3 linked regions of the Homo sapiens genome follow. The protein of the gene in region 3 purifies or fractionates together with the protein of the main gene of each other region. This does not show direct contact. Each region holds a gene or a part of one and is shown on either strand. Other genes may lie near its edges. The genes, in order: NCBP3, RCC1L and YBX2.

Region 1 (3,744 bases), 3.4 Mb from region 3:
GAGGTTGCGGTGAGCCAAGATCAGGCCATTGTACTTGGCTACTCAGGAGGCTGAGGCAGGAGAATGGCTTGAACCCGGGAGGCGGAAGTTGCGGTGAGCCGAGATCGCGCCATTGCGTTCCAGCCTGGGCAACAAGAGCGAACTCCGTCTCAAAACAAAACAAAACAAAAACCATGTTGAACTGAATGACTAAAGGGATGATAACACCTGCTTCACAACTGCAGTAATATTTATTTATTTTGGTTTTGTTTTTGAGATGGGGAGAGGGGAAAGGGGGGACCTCAAAGGGGTCTTGCTATATTGCTGAGGCTGGTCTGGAACTTAGACTCCTGAATAGCTGGCACTAAAGGCGTGCACGGCCAGTATATTTAAGTGACACAATATAGTGAATGGTAAATGCTACTATATTAGCTGTTGTTAATCATAATTATAACGTTTGCCATCTCTAGCGATCATACTTTAACCTTTCTCCATAACTTCAGTCTAAATATGTTGACATGTGGTCAAAAGTAATTCATGTTAGGTGAGAAATTAAGAGGAGTCATCCAGGCCTGAAACCAGCTCTGAGAACTGGATATACAGCCACCAAGTCACAAGCAAAACACCTCTCACCATCCCCAGCGCGGTAAAGGAGGGACCAAGGATGTCTATTGGTCGTCTGCTAGTTTGCTTTCATTAAGAGTCAGATGCTGGGGCCACGGTGTAGGTGTCACTGGAGCTGCGGGGGGGGCAAGATGACCCCGAAGTCACGACAGAAACAGTGAGTTTCTGCTGCTGACAAGTGCAGCCCTCTCAAGACAAAGAGCGAGTGCCATGTTTCCCAGATACAAATTCCTCCGGGGCAAGACCCACAAGGAGACCTGGTTGCTGGCGCCACCCAACAGCTCCTTCTGGGCTGCCCCTGGTTCTGTTCCCGCCCAGGGCTCCCCCTTTATCTCATCCTTCCAGCCCCTCCTCACTCACCTCCTTGCACAGCGCGGCTCAGAGGGGGCAGCGGAGGGGGGTCCTCAACTCCCTCCCAGCTCTCCGCCACCACCCCCCAGCCCCCTCAACACCCATTTCCGGCGCCCCGGCGTCCTTTCTCCCGCTCCGCGTCCCTCCTCCAGCCCGGCGTTCCCGTTCCCAGGACGCTGGCTCCCTCCTCTCCCGCTCCCTTGACTTCCCCGGCTGGGGCTCCGGCCACCGCCCCTTCCGGCCCCCTCCGGCGCTAGACACTAGCCCCGCGACCTCTTCCTTACCCCCCGACCCCCGCCCGTACCGGGATCAGTTCCTTGAGCGAGCGCCGCACAGGCACGATTTCCAGCTCGCCCTCCTCCACCTCCATGGGCTCCGGCTCGCCACGGTCAACACCGGACTCCGCCTCAGGGGACGGGAGCCCCAGGGCCGGCCCCGCCGGGGCCTCCGCCTTCACCGACACCCGCAGGCCCCGTACGGCCGCCATCGCTGCCTGCCGGCCGCACCACTGAGAGCCCGCCCCTCACGGCCGCCGGCTAGAGCGCCGCTGCCACTGGCCACAGAGGAGCCGCCGCAGCTACCTAGAGCGTCGCCGGCTTCGGCCCAGAAGGCCGCCCTTAGCGCCGCCGCCCCCTGGTGGCGGGAGAAAACCGGGCCGGCTGCGCGGGCGGGACCTGGGGAGGAGAAGGCGGGACTGAGCGGGGACGGGGGCGGGGCCTGCGGGAACTACGGAGCTTGGAGGAGACCGGGGTAGTCAAGGGTTACAATGTAGCTACGCCTTGAGGCTAAAGCTGTACTAAAAGCCAACTTTCCTGAGTGATCACTATGGGCCAGACACTTCCAAGCGCTCGAACCCTTAGAACAACTCTATGAAGTAGATCCTATTTTGACCCCCATTTCATATATGAGGAAACTGAGGCATAGAAATTGACCCAAGGTGACGCCATTTAAGGGATAAAAGCTGGATCTAAGTCTTCCAGAGTTTACAATGAGCCTTGATATATCACCTCTGGACAATCTGTAGGTTTATAAAGTTACTTGCCTTGCCAGTCTTTGTCTCTTAAAAGTCTCCCCAAAATTGGCCCATGTTACATACACAAAAATTGAGACTCCAAGAGGGAGAGACCTGCCCAAAGGCCAGAACTTGGACGCCGATTTCCTGACTCCTGAGGGTGCCATCCACTGTAGACCTGTGAGCATAGTTTCCGGCGGATATTTCTAACGAGAGCCTGGTGGGGGAGAGGGGTTGTCTACGCGTCCCGAGGGTGTCACTGATCAGCTGCTGTTCTGAGTCCTGATTTTCTTTTTCTTTCTTTCTTTCTTTCTTTATTCCTTTCTTCCTTCCTTTCTTTCTTCTTTTCTTTCTTTCTCTTTTCCTTCCTTCCTCCCTCTCCTCTTTCTTTCTTTCTTTCTTTTTTTTTTTTTTTTTTGTAGAGACAGGGTTTCACCATGTTGACTAAGCTGGTCTCGAATTCCTAACCTCAAGCGATCCACCCGCCTCGGCCTCCCAAAGTCTTGGGATTACAGGCATGAGCCACCGCGCCCGGCCTGAGTCCTGATTTTGCATCTTCCTCCCTGGGTAACCTTGGACAGGTTTTTGGGTCTGTTTTCCCATCTGAGGAGGGCATAGGTGAGACCCTACAGTCTCTGAGGCCCTGAGGCCCTACCAGCTCTGACCATGGAGGAGCAAATAATGATAAACCAAGGAAGAGCATGGTCAGCATCAGACACACCTGGGTTTCGAGCTGGCTGGCCGGGCCCCATCCACCATGTGTGACCTTAGGCAAGCTGCTTAGCACTTTGGAGTCTCAGTTCCTTCATCAGTAAAATGGACCATTACCTACCTACAAAGGAGGTTGTGAGGGTTAAATGTGATAATTTATATGTAGATACAGGGTCCAACAGAAGGGGTGCAGTACATCACAGTTTTTCTTAAATTTGGGCTAAACCACAGGATAAACACAAGACAGAGCTCTTTAGAGGACTAGTTTTATTTGATGAATGGGACACAAAGTACTTTTAAAAATTGGGTTGAGGCCGGGCACGGTGGCTCATGCCTGTAATCCCAACACTTTGGGAGGCCAAGGCGGGCAGATCATGAGGTCAGGAGATCGAGATCATCCTGGCTAACATGGTGAAACCGTGTCTCTACTAAAAAAAAAAAATTAGCCGGGCATGGTGGCATGCACTACTTGGGAGGCTGAGGCAGGAGAATCACTTGAACCCGGGAGGTGGAGGTTGCAGTGAGCCGAGATCATACCACTGCACTCCAGCCTGGGCGACAGAGCGAGACTCCGTCTCCAAAAAAAAAAAAAAAAAATGGGTTGAATGCATACATAGAATATGTACGGGTGTGTGTGTGTGTGTGTGTTTAATTTCAAACAAAATGTGTAGTTGGGGTGGCCAGCTATAGGTAAGAGTCACAGCCCCCACCATTACTAGGCCTGTGGGGTTAGGGGATGGGAGAGGAGGAAGTAATCCCTCCTCAGCTATGGACACCAGGAGGCCAGTAGAGAAGGCTGGGCAGGCCCCTCACCCTGCTGGGGAGGATGCCTTGTTGCTTGAGGACGCAATTCGGTGAGGATTCAGTGTTGCAGTTCAGTGCCATCCAGAAGAGCCCCAGCACCCTGGCACACCAGCCGGCAGGTACATGAGGAGTCCAGGACAAGCCGGGACATCAGGCAAACACCAAGGCTCCTAGGCGCGTGTCAGGAAAGCCCTCTGTGCCTTGCTCTTTGTGGTCACCTTAGTCACCATCTCCCATCCCCTTTCCTGTTCGCGATGCAGCCT
Region 2 (3,744 bases), on a different chromosome or scaffold from region 3:
CATTAGGGACTCCTGGCCACAGCAGATGGATGCTAGAAACCAAGTCATGCTGTCATCCCCCAGCCCTGTCCCTAAACAAATGAATGTCTTTAGCAGAACCTATTACAGGAATCACTAAACAAACAAGAACGGGGCCCAGTGAATCGCAAAGGCACGTCGATGCAGAAAGCCTGAGAGGCTGGCCGGAGAAGAAAACAGGCTGCCTCTGCAGGGACTGGGCCCCGACCGCCTCTTAGCAACCTCCCCAGCCATTAGGGAGCACTTTATTTACCTTTCCCGGGACAGTGCGCTTCCTCACGGCTGCACTTAAGCCCCCAGGTCCTTGCTCCCCGAGGGCTCTGGCCATTCAAGCCCAAAGCAAAGGAAGCCACGATGGTCTCTGCTGCGGGTGGCCTGGGCAGCAAGGGCCCGGCTCCTGGGAGCCAGCCCTAGGGACCAGCGGGAGGCTCCCCAAGGTTCCAGCTCCCCCTGGCGGACAATCTCACACGGTCTCTGAACTGAGTCCAAGAGGAGACTGCCCTCAGCCATGTTTTATTTTTGTCCTAGGCAAGGTTAAATGGCGTTTTTCTTCTAAGCCAATTTACACTCACAACTCCGCTGCTGAGGGAAACAGTTCCAAAAACCAGAACCATATTTAGCCTTGGTGACTCTCTTAAAAGTCTCAGCAGAATCCATTTAGGAACATCCCTATCCACAATTACAAGTTGCTAAAACGAACGCCCACCAGGTGAAAGACGGGGGTGCGGGAAGAAGGAACCCTGGGCGGTGAGTCCTTCGTGGGGACAAGAGAGCCAGAGAAAGGGAGACTACTCCGGCGCCCAGCTCTGCAGTTCAATGGCACCAGCTTTTCTATTTTTTTTTTTTCAATGAGACGGAGTCTCGCTCTGTCACCCAGGCTGGAGTGCAGTGGCACGATCTCGGCTCACTGCAACCTCCGCCTCCCAAGTTCAAGCAATTCTCCTGCCTCAGCCCCCCAAGTAGCTGGGATTACAGGCATGCGCCACCACACCTGGCTAATATTTGTATTTTTAGTGGAGACAGGGTTTCACCATGTTGGCCAAGCTGGTCCCAAACTCCTGACCTCGTGATCCGCCCGCCTCGGCACCCCCAAAGTGCTGGGATTACAGGCGTGAGCCACTGCGCCCGGCCGCTTTTGTATTTTTAAATTTTTGTTTAGAGACAAGGTCTTGTTCTGTTGCCCCCGGCTGGAGCGCAGTGGTGTGATCATAGCTCACTGCAGCTTCCAACTCCTGGGCTCAAGTGATCCTCCTGCCTCAGCCTCCCAGGGAGCTGGGATTACAGGCACACGCCACTGCACCTGGGTCATTTGTTTTTTGTAGAGATGGAGTCTCACTATGTTGCCCAGGCTGGTCTTGAACTCCTGGCCTCAAGCAATCCTTTCGCGTCAGCCTCTCAAAGCGCTGGGATTATAGGCGTTGAGTTACCATGCCTGGCCTGTGCCCGGCTTTTAACTTGTACTCCTCTCCTGCATTGTGAGAACCACCTAGGTGGGTACATACACAGATGAATAAATAAAATTATATATATATATTTTTTGGAGACAGAGTATCACTCTGTCGCCCAGGCTGGAGTGCAGTGGCGCAATCTCGGCTCACTGCAACCTCCGCCTCCTAGGTTCAAGTGATTCTCCTGCTCAGACTTCTGAGTAGCTGGGATTACAGGCGTGCACCCCCACGCCTGGCTAATTTTTGTATTTTTAGTAGAGACGGGGTTTCGCCATGTTGGTCAGGCTGGTATCGAACTCCTGACCCCATGATCTGCCCATCTTGGCCTCCCAAAGTGCTGGGATTATAGAGATGAGCCATAGCGCCTGGCCAATAATTAAAAAAAAAAAAAAAAAAAAAAAAAGAACCACCGGCCAGGAGCAGTGGCTCACACCTGTAATCCCAGCACTTTGGGAGGCCGAGGCAGGTGGATCACCTGAGGTGAGGAGTTTGAGACCAGCCTGGGCAACATGGTGAAACCTCATCTCTACTAAAAATACAAAAATTAGCCAGGCATGGTGGCACATGCCTGTAATCCCAGCTACTGGGGAGGCTGAGGCAAGAGAATCGCTTGAACCCGGGAGGCGGAGGTTGCAGTGAGCCCAGATTGTGCCACTGTACTCCAACCTGGGTGACAAAGCAGGACATCGCCTCAAAAAAAAAAAAAAAAAAAAAGAACCACCACCTAAGACCCAGGGCTATGGAAGGAGTCGTATAAGCGAGGCTAGAAGTCAGCGAGCTCCCCAGCTTGTGTCTCCAGACCCCACCGGTCCTGACCTGCAGGGCCCACGGGGAGGGGAAGCACCGTCTACAGGCAGAGTCGCAAGTTCAAATTATACCCAATGAGCTCAGGGGCCGTGAGACCTGGGGCAAGCCCCTTCGCTCCTGACTTCCGTGTCCCCGTGTGCACACTGTGGAGGGAGAAACCCCACCCTCAAGGTGTCTGGAGGATGAGAGAGAATGGACATCACGTGCCCAGCACGCTGTCCATGCCCTGCCCTCCCCCGAAGCCAGGCTGGAATGTTTGTCTGTGGAAAGCCAGGGCGCTCCCTGGGGGATGAGGGGTGAAGGCCACTCCACACCCCCTCGCTGCCTGCTGTAGGTCTGTGGCACTCCCCCTTAGGTCAGAGGGTCTTGGAAGGCCAGACAACGCCTGGTCAAATGTTCCGTGCCACTGCGTGCTGCCTTCTCTCCACACCAGCTTCAGGCTCGCCCAGGGAGGTGGGTGGCCGTGGAAAGACCATTGTCTTAAAAGTCAGATGTAACTGAGTCCAAATCCTGGCTCTGACTCCAACTTAGATATGTGACCCTGGGAAACCACTGAACCTCTCTGAGGGATGAGTCTCAACGTGTAGCAAAAAAACATGTCCTGGAAAGTTTCTGGAAGCAGAGGTTTGAATCAGGTGGCTCAGATGTCACCTCCCGGGCCCACATACTCAGAAAAGGCCAAATTCTGCAAGTCTAAGAATAACTAGTTGGTACCAGTGTATGAGCTACAAGTAAAGTTTTACTCTTTTTTTCTCTTCTTTTCTGGAATACTTTTTAAATGATGTAATATATCCCCTACGGAAGATTAATTTGAACATAGTTGTTTTAAAGAATAAAGATCACCCAAGCCAGTGACTCACCCCTGTAGTTCCAACATTTTGTGAGGCCAAGGTGGGAAGACCACTTGAGGCAGAAGTTTGAGACCAGCCTGGGCAACATAGGAAGACCTCATCTCTCAAATAAATAAAATAAAACAAATAAATATAAATAATAAAATAAGCCGTGTGTGGTGGCACATGCCTGTAATCTCAGCTATTCCAGAGGCTGAAGCAAGAGGATCACTTGAGACCAGGAGGTTGAGATCAACACATAAGACCCCGTCTCTTAAAAAAAAAACGAAAAAAAAATTATTTGGGTGTGGTGCTGGCACATGCCTGTCATCCCATCCCACATCTCAGTTACTTGTGGGGCTGAGGCAGGAGGATAGCTTGAGCCTGGGAGTTTGAGGCTGCAGTGAGTGTGATCACACCATACTCCAGCCTGGGCGACAAAGCAAGACCCTGTTTTCAAAAAAAAAAAAAAATCCTGGGCAACACGGCAAGACCCCATCTCTACAAAAAATACAAAAATTAGCAAGGTGTGGTTGTGCAAGCCTGTAATCCCAGCTACTCGGGAGGCTGAGATAGGAGGATCACTTGAACCTGGGAGACAGAGGCTGCAGTGAGCCGAGATCCTGTCACCACACTCCAGC
Region 3 (3,744 bases):
GGCTGGGGAAGGGCCCACTGGGGGAGACCTGGCTCTGCTCAGAATCCACTGCCACAGCCTCTCCCGGTGCTGAGGGGTGGGGCTGCCTACTGAAGGAAAGCAGCAGCCTCTGGCTCCTTCCTCCTGACCCCCACTGTCAGCCTCAGTCCCAACAGGTGGAGGGCTCGAATGAGCCACAGCTCTTTAAGGGAGTTGAGTTGTGAGTGCTGCCATAACAGGAAATCAGTTGAGGATTCCAGCCGGGGGCCCTGAGGCACAGAGAACCCTATAATACATTCTGCCCCAAAGGCATGTCAGAGTAAAAGTAATGAAGCAATTCCAGAAGGTGAGATGAGAAGCTGGCAGGGTCAGAGCCAGGTTTGCCAAGTTCCTGAATCATTAATCCTCCGCTACCCTTGAAGATGCGGAGGAGGCTTCCTCTTGTCACGAAGCACACATTTGTGCTGCGGTTAAAGGCTTTCAACCAGCATCAGCTGGACATTGCAACCATGTGCCTCCGCAGGGGTCGATGAGGTTGGGCGGGTGTCCAGTCCCACAGGCCAGCTGGGAAGACACCCATTCCACCCCCGCCCTGGGTTCCTTGGATACCTGTTGATGAATCCGTAACCATTCCGGACGTTGAACCATTTGACAGTGCCCAGGACTTGGATTGCTGCCAGGCAGAGATGCAGTGGGGACAGTGAGATGGGGGGAAGAGATGGAGTTGAACTCAGTTTTGAGACACTCCAAAACAAAAAAAAATCTAGCCTACTGCCTTATTACCTATTCAGGTTACCTTCAAGCCAACCAGGTTTCACTAGTAGCTTCAAGGTATTCCTACCCTAGTCCACCAAATGAAATCACCCACACAGGGACTCAGGCTTTCAAAAAGCCTTCCAACTCTAAGTCACGTTCCCCACATCCTACAAATCCAGCCCCTTCACCTAGAACTGGGTACTCACCTGGTCTGCAAAGTGCCGCCCCCAGGTCATAACTGAGGGTTTTTCTAGCCCTCCCAATGCAAGGGTCCCCAGTGCACCTGCTTGCCAGGCTCAGAGGTTTGCCTAGTTCTAACCCAGTCAACTAGGCACTGTGTCCCGCCCGGGGGCGTGGCCGGACCCTGGGGCTTTATTCTCCACCCCAAGACCTTAGCTGAACCTGCCGGCCCCGCCCTCTCTCCCAGGAAGGTACGGCAGGATTTCCCACCAGGGGAATCCACTTTGGTGCGCAGCTCCCAGCCCAGTTAGCGCTCTGGGCCTGCGGGCCAGGCCGCCTTTGGTTTTCCGGATCCTGCCGGGCTCCACACTGCCCCTCCCCCAGCCCGCCGACCCCTCAGAGCCGCCCTGTGCGCGCCTGCCCCTCACCCAGCACCGGCTTGTCCGCCTGACTCCGGGCCGGGGGGGCGGGGGTTCCCGAGACCGCCGTCGCCGGATTGCCAGGGGTGCGGGAGCCCGGCGCCGAGGGGGTCCCAGCAGCGGGGCCCGAGGCGGCTCCGCCCCCGCCGCCCGCCCCGCCGCCTTTCTGCGGCTCCCCTGCGGGCACCGGTACCACCACCGCTACCACCCCTGCCGCCGTCGCGGGCACCGTCGCCGCGGGGACCGCTGTAGCCCCCGCTGCCGCCTCCACCTCGCTCATCCCGCCGGGTCCAGTACCGGCCACAGCCGCCACCGCCCCGGCCCCTCCCCCCGGCTCGCGAACCCACCGCCCTGCTCGGTCCTCGCGCCCCGAGCCTCGCCCACACGCCGGCAGCGGGCCCGGAGCCGAGGCCAATGGCAGCCCGCTGCCGCCGCTCGCGCAGACCCCGCCTCCCGACCACGGGCCAATCCCAGCCCAGCAGCACCCCCGGACCGCACGCCGACCCCGCCTCCCGGACTTCGCACCGCGGCCCCGGCCCCCGCCAGCCGCCCAGTAAGTACACCTGGGCCCCGCCCCCTGGCCGCCACGTGACGGCCCCCGGCCCAACCCATTGGCCGGCGGCCCCTTTCCCCTCCCCCCTCCGCCCCTTTCCACCGGCCGCGGGAAATCAAACGGGCCGGTCGCGCCCCAACCGCCACCTGGCCTCTGCGGGAAGGGCGGGGCCGGGGCCGCAGTGCCAAGGTTGCCCCTAACGACCTGAGCGAGGGGCGGGAATCTGCAGCCTCGGTTCTGGCAGTGAGTAGCACCGCTCGCCTCCACCCTCGAGACCGACCTTGCCCGTATGCTGCCAGGTGCAGACGCCTTCCGGCCACCACCGCCCTTGGCACCCTCTCCCCACAGGACGGCCCTGCACACCCTGGGGCTGCGGGATCCAACCGCAGGATAGGCTGGAAAGCGCAGCAGAATGGTTTTCCCGGCTCACACTTGCTCCCATGAGCCAGGACCCCCTACTTTTCTTTTTTCTTTCTTTTTCTTTTCTTTTCTTTTTTTTTTTTTTTTTGAGACAGGGTCTCGCCCTGTCGCCCAGACTAGAGTGCAGTGGCGCGATCTCGGCTCGCTACAACCTCCGCCTCCCTGGTTCAAGCGATTCTCCTGCCTTGAGCCACCTCAAGGTGGCTCCCGGCCTGCCCCTACCTATGTTTGTATTGGAAACAAGGTTTACAAGTAGTACAATGCGCAATTCTTCTTCGCTGAGTTTGTTTGTTTGTTTGTTTTGACACAAGGTCTCCCTCTGTCGCCCGGGCTGGAGCGCAGTGCGCGATCTGGGCTCACTGCAGCCTCTGCCTCCCGGGTTCAAGCGATTCTCCCTCCTCAGCCTCCTGAGTACCTGGAATTACAGGCTTGCGCCACCACAACCTGGCTAATTTCTGTATTTTTAGTAGAGATGGGGTTTCACCATATTGGCCAGGCTGGTCTCGAACTCCTGACCTCTGGTGATCCGCCCGCCTCAGCCTCCCAAAGTGTTGGGATGACAGGGTAAGCCACCGTGCCCGGCCTTCGCTGAGTTTTGATCAATGTGTCCACCCATGTGGCCCATACCGACCGCTGCAGCTCTGATGTCTACCGCCCTAGACTGGCTTTGGGGTCTCTCACGTCTGTATGCCGGGGGCTGTGGTCTCCGGCCAGGCGTCAAGCTCCAGCGGACTCGAGGCCTTTTGCACATGCGGTTTCCTCTGCCGAAAACGCGCCTTCGTGTCTCCAGGTGGCTCTCTCCAAGCAGCAGCTTACGTGCCACTCTTCGCCATCACACCATTCCTTATTTTTCTAATGGCATTTTTGAAAATATGACATGATCCTGACCATTTGCTTATTTTATTTCCCTGCACACAGTGGGCTGTAAACTCCACAGCAGTAAGAGCCTTGTAGTTAAGCTGGACGCCTGCAGCAGTGCCTGGTACAACGTACACGTTCAATATTTATCGAATACATGAACGGCCCCCATTCCACAGATGAGAGGACTGAGGGGCAGTGCGAGGCTTGTACCAGGTTTCTCGGGAGCCTGGGAAGATTAAGAAAATGGGCCGGGCGCGGTGGCTCACGCCTGTAATCCCAGAAAAACGAGGCTCCAGCAGTATCTCCTCCCTAGGGCCGCCTCCCCCACCAGGGAGGACGCGGGTGCGCGTTGTATTTTTAGCCAGGGCAGCGCGCCCCGGGGCAGCACACGTGCCCCCAGGCGCTGCTGGGCAAGCCCCACGTGCGCTTCCCAAGGGCTGGCGTCCTCCGCGTCTCCTTCGCCGCCAGCTGCCCGCAGCAGCCGCAGTCGCCTCTCCCGGTCCCGGCGCGCCCTCTGCCGGCCGCTCCCGGAGGCCGCCGGATTCCGCTTCCTCGCTGACCCTCCACTTGCTATCT

What was found.
Region 1: the proteins of YBX2 (region 3) and NCBP3 purify together in Homo sapiens (co-immunoprecipitation; 2 studies listed by BioGRID and IntAct, with this or other methods). This does not show direct contact.
Region 2: the proteins of YBX2 (region 3) and RCC1L purify together in Homo sapiens (co-immunoprecipitation; 2 studies listed by BioGRID and IntAct, with this or other methods). This does not show direct contact.

The regions. Positions count from the first base shown.
Region 1 is NC_000017.11:3,844,783-3,848,526, forward strand, and holds the start of NCBP3 (nuclear cap-binding protein subunit 3), read right to left. Parts: upstream 1,465-3,744; 5' UTR 1,442-1,464; coding exon 1,259-1,441; intron 1-1,258. UniProt on the Homo sapiens protein: Associates with NCBP1/CBP80 to form an alternative cap-binding complex (CBC) which plays a key role in mRNA export. NCBP3 serves as adapter protein linking the capped RNAs (m7GpppG-capped RNA) to NCBP1/CBP80.
Region 2 is NC_000007.14:75,046,108-75,049,851, forward strand, and holds part of RCC1L (RCC1-like G exchanging factor-like protein), read right to left. Parts: intron 1-3,744. UniProt on the Homo sapiens protein: Guanine nucleotide exchange factor (GEF) for mitochondrial dynamin-related GTPase OPA1. Activates OPA1, by exchanging bound GDP for free GTP, and drives OPA1 and MFN1-dependent mitochondrial fusion. Plays an essential role in mitochondrial ribosome biogenesis.
Region 3 is NC_000017.11:7,292,887-7,296,630, forward strand, and holds the start of YBX2 (Y-box-binding protein 2), read right to left. Parts: upstream 1,754-3,744; 5' UTR 1,615-1,753; coding exon 1,344-1,614; intron 653-1,343; coding exon 589-652; intron 1-588. UniProt on the Homo sapiens protein: Major constituent of messenger ribonucleoprotein particles (mRNPs). Involved in the regulation of the stability and/or translation of germ cell mRNAs. Binds to Y-box consensus promoter element.